Linked DNA regions of Homo sapiens. The protein of the gene in region 2 interacts with the protein of the main gene of each other region in a biochemical or structural test. Each region holds a gene or a part of one and is shown on either strand. Other genes may lie near its edges.

Region 1 (3,694 bases), on a different chromosome or scaffold from region 2:
ACTCCAGCTGAAGCAAAGGGGGCCTCCAAGAACTTTCTCAGCATGCCCCTGCCCCTGGGTGATTGTGAGAAGGAGGCAGAACAGGCCCTACCCTTCTGGGGAGCCCCGAAACGGAGTCCTAAGCCTCCAATTTTGGAAACTGATATTCCCAGATACAGCCAGCTTGGGGGTTGGGTAAAGGTATTGGGAGGTTAGAGTAACTTCAGTTAGCTCCCAGGTCACTTCACACAAACCCCCATCAGCAGAATAATCACCTAAAAACCCTAAAATGTCAAGTCCCTTATCTTTCCCAAGGACCCCTGGGGAACTGAGACTCCCCTCATCCAGCCCTGAAGTTAGGCAGAGCCCCCACCCCAGCACTAATATACGCCCTCTTGGTTTCACATAGGGCCAAGACAGACAGCACCCCACACCAACTACCCAGGCCTGGTTCCCAGCATCCCCTGAGCACACACAAGCCACAAGAACATTGCTGGGGGAGGGGAGACACTCCAAGGACTTCCCTAACACAGCCTCGGGGTGAGCTGGGGGTGCCTTGGCCCTGTCTAGGAAATCCCCACAAAGTCTTGCCTCCCTGACTGACGCTTACCCTGACCCCCAGGGCCTCCCTCACTCTGAGCACAGGCCAAGTTGGTATAAAGAACATAAGCTAAGGCATTAAAAGATGCCAGCCACCTGTCCCGACCCTGTGCTCCTGACCTCACCCTCTGAACTGAGTCACACATTCACTCATGCACTTGACACTTCCTTGGTCCCCAGTATGGGCAAAGGAAAGAGGTACAGATGCCCGGGGCTCACAAAGGTACGTAAACGAGGCCCGGGCTTACGGAGCTCACAGGCTAATGTCAGGAGAATGGGCACAGACCCCTCCCTCCACGCATCCTGGGGGCACTTGAAAATGTGTGGGCTGCTTGGGGTTGTCACCATGACTGGTGGAGGATTAAAGGTATCTAGTATTCTTGGATGCTACAGCTCCTTCAGTGTGTAGGCAAAAGTGCCCCATCCTAAACGAACAGCCAGACCCCTTGCCCTCAGAGCCCCAGTCTGAGGAGGGAGACATAGCCCTGGCCTGAGGGAGCCTCAGTCTGAGCGGGGAGACAGCCCTATCAGGGAGCCCAGGTCGGAGGGGAGAGACACAGCCCTACCCTCAGGGAACCTCAGTCTGAGTGGGGAGACACAACCCTTTCCTCAGGGAGGCCCAGTCTGAAGTGGGAGACTCAATTCCTTCCCCCAGCAAGAAACACTGAGTGAGTGAGAAGCCCAGCCATGCAGACTTCAAAGGGCCGAGGCAAGGCCCCAGCGAGAGCATCTGTGCTTTGTTGACATTGTCCACACCTGGAATCGGCTTTCAGCTTCTCAGCATTACTACCAGAGGTAGTAATAACATCAGGACCAACAGCCACTATGAGCAGAAGGACCACAGGACACAACACACAGCTTGCGTCCACACCACTACACTAAGCCACACCAGCCTACCACTCAGGCAACCAGGGCAACCTCGGAACAGGCCCCGCCAGGCTGGACCAGTGCCTGCAGCCCACCACAGGGGCCTTAAAAGCAGAGAAGGCAGCAGTCACCAGGCAGGCAGCTAGAAACTGAGCAAGCAGCTGGCCCCTCTCAGGCGCTCTCCCGCTCGCTCGCTCGCTCACTCTCTTTCTCTCTCTCTCTCCCCATCTCTGTGTGATGCCCCTCTCTGACTTGCTTGCCCTCTGGGAACCAACCTGCAAGTACGTTCGTTTAACTCAAGCTGCCTCGCCTTGCAACGCGAGTCTGTGTTTTTGCAGGAACATTTACACGTCTGCGGATCTTGTACAAACAAATGCTTTCTCCGCTCTGAGCAAGGCCCACAGGGACTGCAAAAAGGCAAAAGGAAAGACATCTAAGCTAGAGCATCAGCAGAGAGAGAGAAAAAAAATCACCATGCAACACCCCCTAACATGTCCGCAGCTGCACCCCCACCCAGCCGGTCAGCCCCCAGGCCCTGGAAGGATCCGAGCGCTACAGCAAAAGACAGAGAGAGCGGCGGAAAGAGGCAGCACTGGCTAGGACACCTGCCGCAGGAAGAGGCGGGCACAGACGGGCAGAGAGTGCAGGGAGAGGCTGCCATAAGGGGCAATGCTGTGTCTCTGGGAGACAAGGGTGAGTCTCAGGCCACAGGGACCCAACTGCTGTTGCCCCCATCGGAGCACGCCTTGACTCTTCACCTGCTGGGGATGGCAATCAGGGGCCACCTTCTCCCCGTGCAAGGCTCATGTCCAGGCCCTTCCACCAAGGTGGGCTAAAGTAGGGTGTGATGGGAGGCTAAGCCCGGAGGCGGTGTCCCCAGGCCAGGCCGCTGGTGGCCAGAGGGCCCAGGGCAGGGCCCACCACAGCCTCCGACCCAGAGGAAGAGGCTGCCCTGCAAGGAGGCCTCTGTGGGTGCCATGGGTTGGGCCGGAATAGGGGGCTCCCCTCCAGAGGCCCCACCTCCGTGAGGAGCCAGGGCACTTCCACCAGATGAAGGGAGGCCGCCACATGGTGTCTGATCCCACCCAAGCTCCTCCTTCAGCCAAGGAGTCATTCAGCAAGCTGCCTCCAGTCATTCACAGCCCTTCTTGGGCCATGTCTGCCCTCCCCACCACCCTCAGCTTCCAGACGAGTGCAGAAGCCTAGAGCAATGGAAACCAGTTGGGTGAGCAGGCACCTGTGCCAACATGGGCCCGCCACCAGTGCCCAGTGGGTGAGAGAAAATCGGTGCCCAGCCAAGCCAGGGTCCCCTCCCTTAATCCTCCAGGCCAAGTCGGCACCCCCATTCACCCCAACCCTGGACCAGCAATGCCACCACCAAATCTACCCGTTGGTGCCAATTAGTGGAGTGAGAGAGTGAGAGAGAGACACGGGCCAGGAGGATGAGAGCCAGGGAAGGACCAGGGGAGGGAGGCAGGGTTACAGGGAATGGCAGGCGGAGGTTGTACTGGGGGCCAGGGAGGCTCCAGGGCATTAGACAGCAGCGGGCACCAACGTACACGCTCCAGGACTTATACCGGGATTTCTTGCGCTTTCGTTTTTGCCCCTTTCCCTTTCCTCGAACTGATTTTCTGGAAAATAAAAAAACAGAGACAGAGAGAGAGCGGGGGCGGTGGGGGGAGTAAAAGAAGTGGTAAGGTGGGCAGGGATGGGGGAACGACCAAAGCAAAGCCACACAGGGCCGCTTCCCGGAGGAAGTGTCAGGAGGCAGGTGGTCTCTGGGGAGGCATGCGCGGGCGCACACAGGCGTGTCTGGGCAGCAAGCACTCGATGGCTCTTTCTTCTCCTCACGCTGCCCACCATGGGATGGCAAACCCAGCCCCTGACAAGGCTTTGGTGGGAAGCCGAGACTGGGTGGAGGGCACAGGACCCAAAGGTCTCCACACTCACAGTGGCTCCCAGTCCCCGGCAGGGGGCAAAGCCTGAGGGAAGGCTCTTTGCCCAGCAGCCCTGTCCAAGTCTGACCCTGAAGGTCCGGGGGTGATAAAAGGTAGGCCAGACTTTGGGGAGAAGGTCAGAGACCTGCCTGGATGGGGAGCAGGAGTGGGAGGGAGGGCTGTGTATCAGGCCTTGTGCCTTCATTTGCAACTGCGACAGAACCTCTGGGAATCCCGGTGTGGGGGAAGCGGCTACCTTGGGAGCTGGCACGGAACCAAGAGCAACACCAGCCTGCTCAGCACGACCTGGA
Region 2 (3,806 bases):
GCAGGGAGGTGGGGCCGGGCTCTGCAGCCTGCGCTGAGGGGAGGGCATCATGCATCATCTCAGAGGCTCTGCCAGACCCTGGATGGCGGACACCCAGACAGCCCGTGCGGGGCTTCTCTGGAGGCTGGGGGGTGGGCCAGGGCTGGCTGGTGGGCTCTGCTGGGAGTCCCAGTGGGAGGAGGCGGGGAGGAAGGCACAGGCTCGCTGTGGGCTCCAGCGGGTTGCTTTGAGGCCTCCTCTGTAGGCCTCGAGGGGCTGCTTCTGCGGCGGTGCAGGGAGCTGGGGGGAGGGCTAGGCAGCCGGAGGTGCCCCTGAGGTCCCTGAAATACATGGCTTTTGGGCACACTGGCTCCCAGCTGACCTGAGGACCTCATACAAAATTAAAAGGCAGAAAGGCAGGCGAGGCCAGGCCTGGGGCTGGGACCTCTGCGCCTGCCCCTGCTCAGAGCCGCCGGCCCTCCCTGTCCCACCCCAGGCCTCTCCAGGCTGAGGTGAATTAAATATCGTCTGTGTTGTATTTTTGGCAAAGTCAGTCCTTGGCCTCTGTCCCTGGGGCCTTGGGGCAGTTACCGCCACCGGGGCCTGGCTACTGTAAGGGCCAGGAAGAGGAGGAGGGGCAGGAGGAAGGTCGGGGGCTGGGGGCAGCTGGCAGCCGAGGTCTTCTGTCCTTCCTGCTCTGACAGGCCTGGGAGGGCATGGGTCAAGGGCGTCCGGGAGCTGGAGCTCTTCCTGCTGACCTTCCGGCTGCAGAGGTCATCCAGACAGCCATCACCGCTGCCCGAGCCGCTGCCGTCGTCACCTGGGAAGGAGAGGAGGCTCCGGCAGGCAGGTCCCCACAGGAGACCCCAGTGCAGCACCACCCTGTAAGGGCCCGTGCCAGGTGACCCCAACATCCTTTCGGTGTGGAATCCCAGGACCAGCAGCACCTGATCCCCGCTGACCCCTGAGGCTGGGAGACTCTCACTCCCTGGGGCTGCCTCCCTTGGTCCCTGGAGCCAAAGCCAACAGACATCCCGGCCAGGCCTCCAGGGCGCCGCAGAGGTGCAGGGCTCGGTGATCGTGCCTGGGCAGCACAGCGTCCTCAGACTCACTGTGGTGATGCCGGAGCAGAGGGCCCCTCGGGTGGGGGAACCCGGAGGGCAGTCACACCCCTGTGGCACCCCCACCAACCCTGGCCCCTTGGCCGCCCGGCCAGGCCCTGCCCTCACTGGCGTCCTGGAAGTCCACGTCGTTGCCGTTGTAGGCGCTGCGCAGCCGGTTGGTCATGATCTTCAGCTGCATGATCTGCTGCCGGATGGTCATGTCCGGCTTGGTGATGTCCACCTCCACCTCGGGGTTGTTGATCTGGTTGGCCAGGCCGTCACCCATGACCTCGGGGAGGTACCTGGGGGAAAGGCAGGCAGAGCCCAGGTCACTGCTCCAGCCCCTGCAAAGGGCCATCACCTGAGCAGGACACTCTCCCACGCTCTGAGCCTGAGATGCCCAGCAGCTTCCAGGGACCGAGCAGAGCCCACACAGGCCGCAGAGAAGTGGGGCTCAAGCCCTCCAGCAAGGGACGTGGCCCCGTGCAGACAGCACCTGGCCCAGGCACAGCCCAATGGAGGCGGCATGGGAGGGAGGGCTGTGCCAGCCAGGTGGGCACCTACCGGCCTCTGGCCATCCCGTTCCAGCAGCGGTCATCACTGGCAGTGCTCAGGGCCATCTTCTCACTGCACAGTGTCCCTGGGAGGCTGATCCAGAAGTCCTGGACGTCGCGGAGCTGGGCCTTGGCTTCGGAGACCTGTGGGGCAGCAGTCAGGCCACTGGGCTGCCAGGGCCCGCCCGCCTCTGCCTGTCTGCCTCCCTCATGCCTGGTCCAGTGGACACGCAGGGGCCACTCACCAGCTTCTCCAGCGTGCCTGAAGGTGGCCTCTCCCGCGGGGCCAGCTTGCCCCGGCGCCGCTTCTCCTCAGGCCCGGGGCCCTGGGGGTTGACCTTGGGGTTCCCGCAGCCCTGGATGACCTGGAGAGACACTGCAGGGTCCTTGGGGGGTAGTGGGGCCCCTCAAGCCCAATGGGGCCACATCCAGGACCCCCACCCCGCTGTGCTCGTCACGTCCTCCTGCCCGCACCTTGGCCGTGAGCGTGTCCCTGTTGTCCTGGAGGGCGTTGATGGCCTCCGCCAGCCACGTGTGCACGCTGCCGATGACACTCTCCACACCCGATGTACCCCAGAACTTGTCGGTGATGAGCACCATGGAGTCTAGGACAGGCGTTAACACGCGGACACACAGGCGTTAACGCGCGCACACAGGCGTTGACACGCACACGCAGGCGTCACCACGTGTGCATGTTAATGCAGTCTTGACAGCACGGGTCAGCATGGGAGATCCCACGTGTGCACTCAGGTTGGCCCGTGTGACATGTGCAGGCCACGTGCACTCAGCTTGGCCCACACCCACGTGTGCACCTGTGCCACGGGCACAGGTGAACACGCACATACACAGAGGCCATTCTGCATGCTTGCTGGCCTGCCGTGTCTCGTATGTCCACGCTGGCTCATGCAGGTGTTGACATGTACATACGCTGGCTCACCTTGGTCCAGCTTGTGTGCACATGAGCCCGTGTGAGCTGGTGTGTATGCATGCTGGCTTACCTCATGCCCCCCCCATGTACACCTTAGTTCATGTGTGTGTTGCGTGCACGGTGAGCACATGTACAAGTAAAGCTCATGCATTTTGTCAGCTCCCATCACGTTAGCACACACCTGTTGGCCCCGTGTCAGCACATGCTAGCACGTGTTGGCACAGATGCATGCTGTCCCCCCTCATGTAAGCATGTGTACATGTTAGTGGATCTGGATAAGCATGTACATATTACCACACACGTGTTGGCATTGATGCGGGTCAGCCCAGCTCATGTCATCACATGCGCCCAGGAGCACACGCTGTACTGGTGGGCACTGGCCCACTGTGTGTCAGCAAGTGAGCACGCCAGTTCGCATGTGTCAGCCTGTCATGTGACGGTGCATGTATGTGTTAGCTTAAACAAGTGCCGGTCCTCGATGAGTCACACGTGTTGGCATGTATGCACACCGAGGTGCTTGCTAAGTGGGGAAGGACAAGAAACTATGACCCCACAGGGCTCCCTCCCTGGCAGCTGCCCCAAGTCACACATCACTCAGGACATTCAAAAGGCACCCTGGCCCCTCAACCCTGCAGCACCACCCAGATCTGGCCCGGGTCAGGGCATCCCTGATCAGGTCCCTGGGTCCAAGCTCTAAGCTAGGGACCACCCGCCCCCCAGGACCCCCAGTCGTGCACTCCCCAAGACAGTTCCAGGCCGCTCTCGCGGGTGGGGGCTCACCCAGGAGGTTCCTCCACTCGGCGTCCAGGTCGGCCTGGTTGGCAAGGCAGCCCTTGAGCACATTTCGGCAATAGTCAGGGCAGGGCCTGGCGCCGGGGACTCCCAGGCAGTGAGCACAGTAGACCAGCTTCATGACAGCTCTCGAGCACTCCGGGCCCAGGGGGACCTGGGGAGCAAGGGACCCTAAGCCAGGCCCCGAGGCCCTGGGGGTGCCTGGCCCCGGCCAGCCCCTAACGAAGCCCCAGGGTAGGGGGCTCTGGAGGGAAGTCAGGGGAGGCCTCTGCTCTGCCCCAGCTCGTGGTGGTCGCTGCCTGACTCGCAGGGCCTGCCAGCCCAGACGGCCCTCATTTTAATGATCTCGAGGGTCACAGGGAGGCAAGAATATCCTCACCCGCATGCCGCTGAGGAAACCAAGGCATGACTTGCCCAGGAGCCTGGAGGTGGGGGCAGTTCCCACCCAGG

Evidence for each region.
Region 1: the proteins of GPC1 (region 2) and VEGFA form a complex in vitro, tested with the Homo sapiens proteins (one study listed by BioGRID).

The regions. Positions count from the first base shown.
Region 1 is NC_000006.12:43,780,115-43,783,808, reverse strand, and holds part of VEGFA (vascular endothelial growth factor A, long form), read right to left. Parts: intron 3,078-3,694; coding exon 3,006-3,077; coding exon of another isoform or gene 2,955-3,005; intron 1,854-2,954; coding exon 1,722-1,853; intron 1-1,721.
Region 2 is NC_000002.12:240,463,051-240,466,856, reverse strand, and holds part of GPC1 (glypican-1 precursor), read right to left. Parts: intron 3,511-3,806; coding exon 3,345-3,510; intron 2,242-3,344; coding exon 2,111-2,241; intron 2,002-2,110; coding exon 1,882-2,001; intron 1,781-1,881; coding exon 1,647-1,780; intron 1,385-1,646; coding exon 1,209-1,384; intron 800-1,208; coding exon 567-799; 3' UTR 1-566. UniProt on the Homo sapiens protein: Cell surface proteoglycan that bears heparan sulfate. Binds, via the heparan sulfate side chains, alpha-4 (V) collagen and participates in Schwann cell myelination.